2 separate regions of the Homo sapiens genome follow, and region 1 is linked to region 2. The links come from fine-mapping of genetic effects on gene expression. A gene starts in region 2. The other region holds a variant in brackets. All regions are shown on one strand. Distances are between the middles of the regions.

Region 1 (5,520 bases), 46 kb before region 2:
TGATCTTCAGGCATCTTCCTCTTCTCCCCATATACCAGCTCCTCATGGCTTCATTTACTTCCCCTTCTGGTCTGGACATCATAATGAATCCTTTCCTCTCTTCTCTCATTGATACTCATAACCTCTTATTCCTGCCCTGCCAATCTCTTGGGCAAAATCAGTCCATTCGTTAACTTTTTCCTCCTGCACAAAGTACTCTTTTGTCTCTGGAAAAAGCCTGTCTTCAGTGGGAGAGAGAAAAGCCAATACACAGAATGGCAGAGGGGTGTCCATTTGTGTGTGTGTGTGTGTGTGTGCGTGTGTGTGCGCATGTATGTGCATGAAAGAGAGAGAGAGATGAGGAGGGAGAGAAAGACCTAGTCCTGTGATGTGTATGGCCAACCTCATCCCTGCCCTTCCCTGTGGTTTAGTTTTGTAAGCCAAAAAATGTTGAGAGAAGATATGGCTACCCCTTTTCTCTCTGCTCCCTGTCCTCTGGCCTCCTTCCATGTTACAGCCAAGGACATGCCAAGCCAGCCACTCAGCTGTGGCACTGAAGTAAATGCTTGGGGGATACTGTCAACTCTTCCTCACCACCAGAGTGGTAACAGCTGAGGCTCATGCACTGGTCTTGGGGAAAGGGAAAGAACTGGCCCCAGTGTTCCTCAGCCACAGGTGTCTTCCCCTGGGCACATCTGGCAATGTCTGGATCTATTTTGGTTATACTGGAGGGAAGGTCACTACTGGAGGGAGAGTACTTCTGGCCTCTAGTGGGTAGTGGTCAGAAATGCTGCTAACGTCCTACAAGGATGGCCCCCACAACAAAAAAATTATCTGACCCCAACTATCAATGGTGCCATGATCAAGAAATCCTGGATTAGGGCATTCAGTCTCTGGTTCTAGGCTCTCACTCAGGCAAAAGGAGCACTCAACATAGGCCCACCTCACTCGCCAGGGATCTGCCAGGAGAGGGAGCTAAAGATTCTTAGTACAGTTGGCCCTCTATATCCACAGGTTCCTAACCCAAGGAGTCAACAAACAGCAGATCAAAAATATTTGAAAAAATAAAAATAAATAACAATACAACAATAAAAAATAATACTCCCAAAATACAGTATAAAAAACTATTTACATAGCATTTACATTGTATTAGGTATTCGAAGTAATCTAGAGATGATTTAAGATAAACAGAGGATTGCATAGGTCACATTTTATGTGAAGGACTTGAGCATCTTCAGATTATGATATCTACGGGTGGTCCTGGCACCAATCCCTTGCAGATGCTGAGGGATGACTGTTTGACCTCTGTGCCTCCATTTTCTTCAGATACCTGGTGGACAGTGATGGCTGCTCACTGGGACGGATTCCCTTCCATCTCCTGGCTAAATGCCATCTGAACCCTACCTGGGTTTGACATCTGAAAGGATTTAGGTAGGTCTGACCTAGGACCATGGCATGGGGGCAAAATTCTTTGAAGAAAATAGCAGCTTCCTACCCTGGAAAGGCCTGCGGGACTTAGGCCCTTGTTAATGGGACTAAGGATTCATTTGGGGGCCCTGGCAGGCTTATCTAGAACCTTTACCCACAAGAAGTTCCCCACAGGCTGGGCAGTACTCACCACAGTATGTGCAATTTTTGGCTTCCAGATTGTTTGTGCCAAGCTTTGGCAGGTGGTACAATATTGGCTGCCCCAGATTCTTGTCTGCTTTAGCTGTTTCTGAACCATGTCCAGGGTTGAGAAGGGAACATACTGTGATGGTGTCAGCACTCTGCAGGAAGGTGAAAAAAGGTGAGAGATATGTTAAAGAGAAGCTGAGACATTGTAAGAGGCCAAGCCCAGGTGATGCTGTGGAGGAGTTCTCTTTCTTCACCACCCCTATCTACTTCCCAATCGCTGCTGTGGCCTATGGACTCGGCTCACTCTACAGCAGCCACGACGCAAGTCTTGCTGTTCCTCTAACACCCCAGGCTCATTCCCACCTCAGGACCTTTGCACTTACTGTTTCCCTAATCTTCAGCCTGACTTGCTACCTCGTGTATTCAACTATTTGGTCAAATGCCATCTACCCAAGAAAACCTTCCCTGACCAGCCCATCTAAAATGCCCCTCTCTGGTCATTAACTCTGCTTTATTTGTCTAAATGGCATTTCTATCCAAAACCACAGTATGTGTTTATTCATTTGTTCACTTTTTGTCTGTTCCTCCAATATGGCAGAAAGTTTGTCTTATTCACTGATGTATCTCTGATACCTAGAATAGAGCCTGGCTCATAAATGATTGGGTCCAAATCCTGACTCAACTAACTGTGGCATCTTGGACAACTTCTTTTTTTTTTCACTGCAATTTCCTCAACTGAAAAAAAATGCGAATAATAATTATATCTACCTCAATGGTTATCTGAATCAATGTGAAACCTTAGGTCAATGTCTGGCCCACAGGGAATAGTTAGTATTAACTAATAATATTATTATAATTATTACACCCTCAGGAAGAAGCTCACATGTGTATCCTGAGGAGGCGGGGAGGGGGATGAGCAGTATTCCTAGCAGCTTGCAGGAGCAGAGAGTCTTTTTTGCTTCTCCAGGAACCAAGTCCTGTTCTCCCGTCTTGCCTGCTCTCTGCTGCCCTCTGGAGGTCTGCAGTGGAGTCAGGCAGGGAGCTGATTCAGGGACGCCACAGATTATGTATCCTCCACTTCCTATGGGATAGCTGCTATCATTCCCATTTTACAGATGAGGAAACCACTTCTCACAGTTGTAAGTAACTTGCCCAAAGTCATGTGATCTCCTGCTCTTAATCACATGATGAAGAATGAGACATTGCTGGATGACAGTCTCTCTACTTAAGCAAGCTAGAGCCCACGGAGGCATCTTGGGCCTTGGCAGAGCTGCCACTGGAGCCATCATTTGGCACACACTATTGGG[A/C]ATCATTGAGGCCACAGAGGAAATGTGGGTACCTAGGAACTCGTTCTTCAGACAGATCCCCAAATGGACCCAGAAACAGCATGCAGCCAAGCAAGGGCTGGCCCCTTCCTTCCCCTCTCCCCAGGCTGTACTTCCTTAGCCAAAGGACAGTTCTCTGATCACCTCAGCCAACCTGAGCTACCCTGGAAAGCTACTTCTCACCCTGTGCCCCTGTGCCTCTCTCTCAGAGCGTATGTCACTGGCTGGGCCAAATGATCTTCATGTCAACCTAAAATAAGAGGGCTATGGAAAGACATAGCCTCTAGAGACATCTGGGAGCTGATTAACTAATAAGAACCTGGAGACACCAGCACTGTCTGATCAAAAGATACAATGGAGGAAAAGATTTCATTTTCAATAAAAACAAAAACCCTAAAACATCTAGAAATAAACTCGCCTAGAAATGCATGTTTTATATGAGGACACGTGGCAAAACTTTGCTAAGAAACACATAATAAGACATCATATTTCTGGATGGGAAAACTGAATAGGGCAAATATGCTTAAGTTCAGACATTTATATATATTTTAAATACAATTCCAAGGGCATTTTGAATGAAAATGACCAAAAAATCATGGCTAAAGTATGAGCTTAGAATGTACTGAGTTTTTACTATGTGCTAGGCTCAGGGCTGACAGCTTTACATACCTTACCTCAATTAATCCTCACAGCAACCTCAAGAGGTCATTTCATTTATTTATTTATTTATTGTGGAGACAGCATTCTCACTCTGTCACCTAGGCTAGAGTGCAGTGGCACTATCACAGCTCACTACAGCCTTGACCTCCCAGGCTCAAGCGATTCTCCTGCCTCAGCCTCCCAAATATCTGGGACTATAGGCAGGTGCCACACCATACCAGGCTACTTTTTAATTTTTTGTAGAGATGAGGTCTCAATATGTTGCCCAGGCTGGTCTTGAACTCCTGGGCTCAAGCAATCCTCCCACCTCAGCCTCCCAAAGTGCTGGGATTACAGGAGTAAGCCACCACGCCTGGCTGAGGTCATTATTAATATTTATGAAAGACAGGTTGGGGAAGTGATTAAGAGCAGGAGATCACATGACTTTGGGCAAGTTACAACTGTGAGAAGTGGTTTCCTCATCTGTAAAATGGGAATGATAGCAGCTATCCCATAGGTTTATGATGAGTATTAAATGAGGTAACATACATGAAACATTGAGAGCAGTGCTTGGCAAGTAGAAGCACTGATATGAACTACTATTATCCTCATTTACAGACGAAAAAACTAAAGCTTAGAGAGGATAACATAATTTGCCCAAGTTCACACAGCTGATAACTGGCTGCCCTGGCCTGGGGGATGGGAATAGGGAGTCTTGCCTACAAGATCTGAAAAATTATAAAATCATAATAGTTAAAACAGGAAGCACATCTTGTATAAGATATTTTTATATGCCTTGCAAGATTATGTTCTGAAATATTAGCCAATGCCTTCTCCAGCCTGATACTCCCCTTACCTCTCTCCCTTCCCTGCCTCAAATAGCCAGGCCATTCTATGCTCATTGCTGCAGGGAAGGTGTGTGAAAACAGAAAGAAGAGGTAAGGAGCCTCTTTCCTTAGGGGAATAGAAGAGACTTCTGGCCTAGACCTAGACCAAAGTGTGGGAGAAAATGGTCATGAGAAAGATCAAGGCATTCCCTGCCCCTCACTCATATCCAAGAATAATTCCCCAGGGCAAGGACAAAGGCTGGAGGGAAGTTGAGAAACATTGACTTTGCTAGGTCCTGGAGGCTGAGGTCCCAATCCCCGCTCCCTGGACTGAGCCCCACAGAGAAAGCAGCATCCCTCACAATCTGTGGATCTGAGAGCAGGGAACAGAACAGCTGCTGGGTGTATCTAGGCCAAGAGGACCCCAGGCAAGCTCCCTGAGTGAGGCTGCTTGAAGAGGTGGAGAGAGACTTTGACCTCCACAATAACCTGCAGGCACCAACGACCCAGGACCAGATGGGACAAGGATAGATGACATGAAGGGCAGGACCCTTTGTAGGTCACTGAGAGTCTAGAACCCTGCACTCCACCCCACCCCAAACCCAAAATGGAAACTGCAAAGGAAACTCAGAACTGACTGGGATTAAGGGTCAGCACCTTTTTAAAGAGCGGGGCTCAAGTACAGATGAAGGAGAATTTTATAAACAAACTAATTTTTTTACACACTTGAGTTTATGGGCCGAAACTGGTATTCTAAAGGATAAAGTTTTAAGAAAATAGTGTTAGGGAAATGCACTGTTTAAAAAATCCATTTAGAAGAGAAGCTTGGGCAGCGGACAAAGGCAGCAACTTAAATCATTCGCAGGGCTCAGCACATATTATTGATCTCTGCTCCGAAATTAAATGTAATTGTTCCTTAAGATTGAGCTTGAATTTGCATCCCGATCTGCCTTGGACAGTAACTATCTGCCCCTGTTGTCTTGGCTTCATAATTAGTTGTGCTCCTTTCATTCTCAAAAGGGTCCCATTTTGAGCAGTAAATTATGTGGTTATTCTGCCTAAGATCTTTAAATGAGAGTGATCCCATGGGTGGGCTGACTCTGAACTAGGTATCGTGAAACAGAAAGTAAGGC
Region 2 (5,193 bases):
AAAGGTGGCATTCTTATGTATAAGAAATGCCTCAGCCAAGATGCTGGACTGAAAAACAACCAGAGTCATTTTCTTAAACCCCATTTACAGAATTGGGTGGACCCCCAAATTCCCCTTTGAAAAAATGCCAATGATATTCTAAGATTTCTCCAAATTCCTCTGGAATCTGCTAGAATTTTTAAGTTTATATTTTTTATAACAAATCAGAATTCATTGACCAGTCTGTGAATGTCACCACATGGCTGCTTTCTCAGGAGCACTGTCTCCTTAATTCTCTTCTCAGGAGGGGAAATAAGATCAAGCAAATAACTCAGTTTAGACCAGGCTCCCCACAACCCAATGCCCTGACTCAGGAGTCTGAGCTGGGAAGACAGGCAATTCAGTGGGTGATCCTACAGAATCCTGTTTCCCCTTCCACTGTCACTTGTCTCCTCTGTGTTTCAAATGGTTTTCTTAGGCCTCACCCTTTCAGAGGCACACAATTGTGCCTCCTTCCAGACCCTTAAGTCACCACCTCTCCTTCCTGATCTGACTCCTCCCACCCCCATCCACAAACCCACCATGAAACCCCAGATGCTTCACCACAGCCCATTCAACCATTCAACTCCCCTTCTACCTGGCCTGAGTCTTGTTTGGTCAACTCTCTATCCCCAAGCTCTGGAGATTCTTCTCCATGCTATGTTGCTATAAAAAGGAAAACACAGGCCAAGTAAATTGGGTGGATCTACCCCTCGCTCTGTCCCCAAGACTCTGCTCAGTGGTCCAAATGAATGGTTTATCACTCCACAGATGGGCAAGGCAAAACAACAGACTAAGACACTGTCCTTGGGCAGCTCTTAGCTTCGGCACACCCATGATGACTGAACACAATAGAAAATTAGGTCCCAAATAGGCCCATGGTTTAGAAGAAAATCACACTTAGGTCATTTTTAGCAACAGCAACTCCATGAACCAGGGGCCTTGCAGCAAACAGATGAATGAGGCATGATGAAGTGATACCATCATCCTAAAGACTCTATGGGAGACCCTTCTGATACTCTCATTTATAATAGCTTCAGAAGGGAGCCCTGGCAGAGCCAGGGAAGAGCCAGGACACCTCCCAGCCTATCACTGCCTAATTCCCTTCCCCAAACAGCTCATCCAGGAAGGTGAGGATGTAGTTCCCAGAGGCTCCAGGACCCCAAATCACACCTGGAACAGCAGGATGGCTCTCATGGACCTGACAATAAAAGGAATTGCCAGTGATATAAAAGGCTGAACCCAAAGTCAGAGACTCCCCCACTTTCCAACCCCAATAAGCCTCTCAGAACCAGGGGGCCACAACAGTAGCTACAGATTCTATCTCAGAAGAGAAAGAAAGCAAGTAACAAATAACAAAGCAGCTCTTAAGAAAGGCTTCACTGTAAGACCTCTCTGAGCCATCATCCCCATTCTGAGTCCCCAGGATAGTCTGGACCCCCTCAGGAGCCCCTGGTATGAGGGCCAATTAGAGTCAGAGGTCAGGCCTTGCTAGTCCCCATTTAGGGATCAACTCTGTAAAGGGAAGCCTGTCCAGCCTTACACCACCAGGGCTTCGAGGGCTCCTTAGAAAACACAGTCTGAGTGCCCTCAGCTGAGCTCCAGCCTATCTCCCCAGCCCCCACAGCAATGATGTCCACAGGCAGCCAGGCCTTCCCCAGCAGCCCTCCAGGGCCATCCCAGATTAGGGCCACTTACCCGGCTGTACACGTGCCTCTTGCTCTGTGCCATGTTGCTCACCCGGCCTCTACCCCCTCCCCCAGCTGGCCAAAGACAGAGAGAAAAGGTAGAAACCTAGGCAGGAGGGTCAGGGCGCTGGGCCCTCATAGAGGGACACAGGAGTCGTCAGGCACAGCCCTCCCCAGTCCATGGGCCTCACTCGGTGGCCTACACGGGTAGGGGTGGGGGCAGTGATGGGGGCTGAGGAGCAAGTCCCCTCTGCTGCCTGAGGATTCCTGAACCCAGAGACACAGAATCCTGCTTGCCAGCTGATGAGTCTCACTCTGCGCTAGTGCTGCTCTAGACTTGTCAGGAACCGTGCTAGCCTCTGGGTCCTAGTGCCCCCCTGCTTCACGTGGGCCAGAAACTAAGGGCTGGGCATACGCCACAGACCCTCAGCACTCAACTCTTGAATACACTGTCCTAGGGCTGGAAGCAGTCTTGACACGTCCTCCTAGTCTGTACCCACTCACCATCACTGTTCCCCTCTCCCCCAGGATGTAAGGCCTCAGCAGGCCCATAAGCATCAAGTGACACTTCAAAGCGATCAGCTGCCTAGAGCCTCCACACAGCCAAAATAAGGGTCTCTCATCTACCTTTCTGGTGCTCTTCTCTCTCCCTCCCCTCTCTAAACTCTGGACTCAGGGTCCAAATTCATGTGAGTAGGGCCTGGATTTCAATCTCACACTGAGCCAGAGGAGGCAGGCCCTGCCCAGGAGGCAGCAAGAGAAGGGCAGTAATGAAGGCAACTTCACACACATAGCAAAGCAAGCCAAGTACCCTAGCCCCCTCCCACAAGGCTGGCAAAGGTTGCCATAGTCACCCTTCACCCTTTATGGTTGTTATAAGGGGCCAGGTTGTAAAACACAAGAGTATCAGACTCAACTGGATTACTAAAGGCAGTAGTCAAAAGCAGAGAGCCCTTCTTTCTTCTTGTAGCACAAGGCCCAGTCCACCTCAGTCATCTGCCCCTTGTACTCTTGGCCTTGCCTCCTAGCATCTCAGACCCAATGAAATGGTTTATTTTCTACGCTTTTGTATTTCACAAAAATTCTTCAGTAACCATGTATTACTTTTATAATTAGAATTGTTTAATTTAATGAGATTATGCATTCTAATGAGAGGTCTCCAAGGGACTATGTTACCACACTGCTTTCATTCACTGGCCCATCTATCATGGGCTAGAAACCAAAAGACCAGGGTCCCTGCCCCTACACAGCCAACAAGGTTGGCCTGGGGTCTGACCTATGGCTCCACTGAGTATGGTATGGATCTAGTTCCCTTGGGCCTAGGGACGCCTGTCTTTTCTGCACTGGGCTTACTTCACTGGCAGAACAGTGACTTTACCCCGCTCTACCCTCTTAAGATAGGCCAGGTAGCCCAACAGGAGAATGACAGCCAACATTCAGAAATATGGCCCCAAAACACAATTCCAAATCTTCAGTCCTGGCCAGACCCCCTAGGAAATAATCTCTCTCCTCCCTGCAAAATCTCCATGTCGCCCCCTCCTTTCCCTATTCGCCATTACACAGGTGGGCAGGGCCAGGCACATCCTTGCAGCCTGGACCTCACATGTTCGGAGCACTTTACAGTCTATAGGACACCTTAAAAAAAGACATTTTATAGAACCATGGTTGAGTACTGGTTCTAGACTCAGGCTACTTTCCTGGCTTTATCACTTGGTAGCTACATAAACTTGGTCTAGTTACTTAACATCTCTATGCCTCAATTTCCTCATCCGTCATAGGGAAGTAACAAAGAACATATCTCAGAGAGGTATCGTGAGGATTAGCTGAGATAATCCAAACAAAGCATCCAGGACACCGCCTGGTATTTAATAAGTGCTAAATAAAAGTTAGCTAAGAACAATGTCATCATATATAGACATTACAATAACCCCATTGAGAGGTTGGCCAGGGATGATGCTGACAAGGCAACTGAGTCTTTGAGAACTGAGCAACTTCCCTGAAGACACACAGACTGTGAGGAGTAGAGCCAAAACTGGAAACAACCTGACCCAGAGCCCTCTGTGCTTTCTACTACCCCTCACCATTACCACAGACATATCTAGGCTTCCAAGGCCCTGCTCTTCCTGTAGGCCACACTGCCTTAAAAAATTCAAAAGAGCTCAGATCTAAAAATAGCCTCACAACTCACTAACCACATAGGTATCAATAGTCCCCTAATTTCTTGGAATCTGTTTATTTTCCTATGAAATGAAAATAATATCTGCCATATCTACGTCAGTATCATGAGGTTCAAAAAAGCTAAAGCATATACAGGTACCTTGTAGGCCAGGTGTGGTGGCTCATGCCTGTAATCCCAACACTTTGAGAGGCTGAGGCCGGTGGCTCACTTGAGACCAGGAGTTCAAGACCAGCCTGGCTGACATGGTGAAACCCTATCTCTACTAAAAATACAAAAATGAGCTGGGTGTGGTGGCGCATACCTATAATCCTAGCTACTTGAGAGACTATAGGCATGAGAATCGCTTGAAGCCGGGAGGTGAAGGTTGCAGTGAGCCAAGGTCGCACCACTGCACTCCAGCCAGGGCGACAGACTGAGACTCAAAAAAAAAAAAAAAAAAGCACCTTGTAAAAAGTACAGAAATTATAGAACTGCAAAGAATTACCTGACATGATACTAAATGGTATATACATCTACACAATAAATATAAGAAATTATAGACAGGAGAGAGGTGAGCTAGAAAGAAAGGGAGTACCTAAGCATGCCTTGAATTATGGGAATTTTAAAAAATATGTGGAGGCCGGGCGCGGTGGCTCACGCCTGTAATCCCAGCACTTTGGGAGGCCGAGGCGGGTGGATCATGAGGTCAGGAGATCGAGACCATCCTGGCTAACAAGGTGAAACCCTGTCTCTACTAAAAATACAAAAAAAAATTAGCCGGGCGCGGTGGCGGGCGCCTGTAGTCCCAGCTACTCGGGAGGCTGAGGCAGGAGAATGGCGTGAACCCGGGAAGCGGAGCTTGCAGTGAGCCGAGATTGCGCCACTGCAGTCCGCAGTCCCGCCTGGGCGACAGAGCGAGACTCCGTCTCAAAAAAAAAAAAATAAATAAATAAAATAAAAATAAAAAATATGTGGAAAGGCCTACAAAGCCCTGTAACTTGTGAACACAGTATGAACAGAGGCAGAAATAACTTTGCTTGACTAGCGAATAGTAAAGAACCCTAGCTTAGCTGAAGTAACGAATTGTAGATGGTTATTCTATCAAACTATAAGCCTTTTGAAGCATAGCCCACACCTTTTCCTCTTTATGATCCAATAGCCAGTAAGTAGCTCATGGTCAAATATTTATTGAATAAACATTTATTGAATAACATTGCAACATACTGGGAGGTAACTGTGGGTAGGCACGGAGTTTAACATCAGGCAGACAGAGAAGGACTTGATCCAATAATAACAGGAAGGCAGTCTTGTTCCTGAGCAGGAGACTGC

Alleles and levels. Alleles are on the strand shown, and positions count from the first base shown. SD is a standard deviation of normalised expression in the study named.
For the expression in monocytes after Pam3CSK4 of the gene that starts at base 2,023 in region 2, A is the high allele of the variant in region 1 and C is the other (large effect, 1.0 SD a copy in Quach 2016).

The links.
Region 1: its variant is fine-mapped to the expression of DCTN1 in monocytes after Pam3CSK4 (Quach 2016, PIP 0.95).

What each region holds. Positions count from the first base shown.
Region 1 is chr2:74,332,430-74,337,949 of GRCh38, forward strand. SLC4A5 (solute carrier family 4 member 5) reads right to left here. Exons shown (of 31, transcript NM_133478.3): 4 at 1,598-1,748. Among named protein-coding and RNA genes, the nearest start is that of SLC4A5, 8.2 kb to the right of the region's middle. RefSeq lists a silencer at 926-1,015 and an enhancer at 2,518-2,707. The variant A/C (reference allele first, on the strand shown) is at 2,904.
Region 2 is chr2:74,378,289-74,383,481 of GRCh38, forward strand. DCTN1 (dynactin subunit 1) reads right to left here and starts at 2,023. Exons shown (of 32, transcript NM_004082.5): 1 at 1,717-2,023. The coding sequence starts at 1,749. RefSeq lists an enhancer at 1,824-2,335.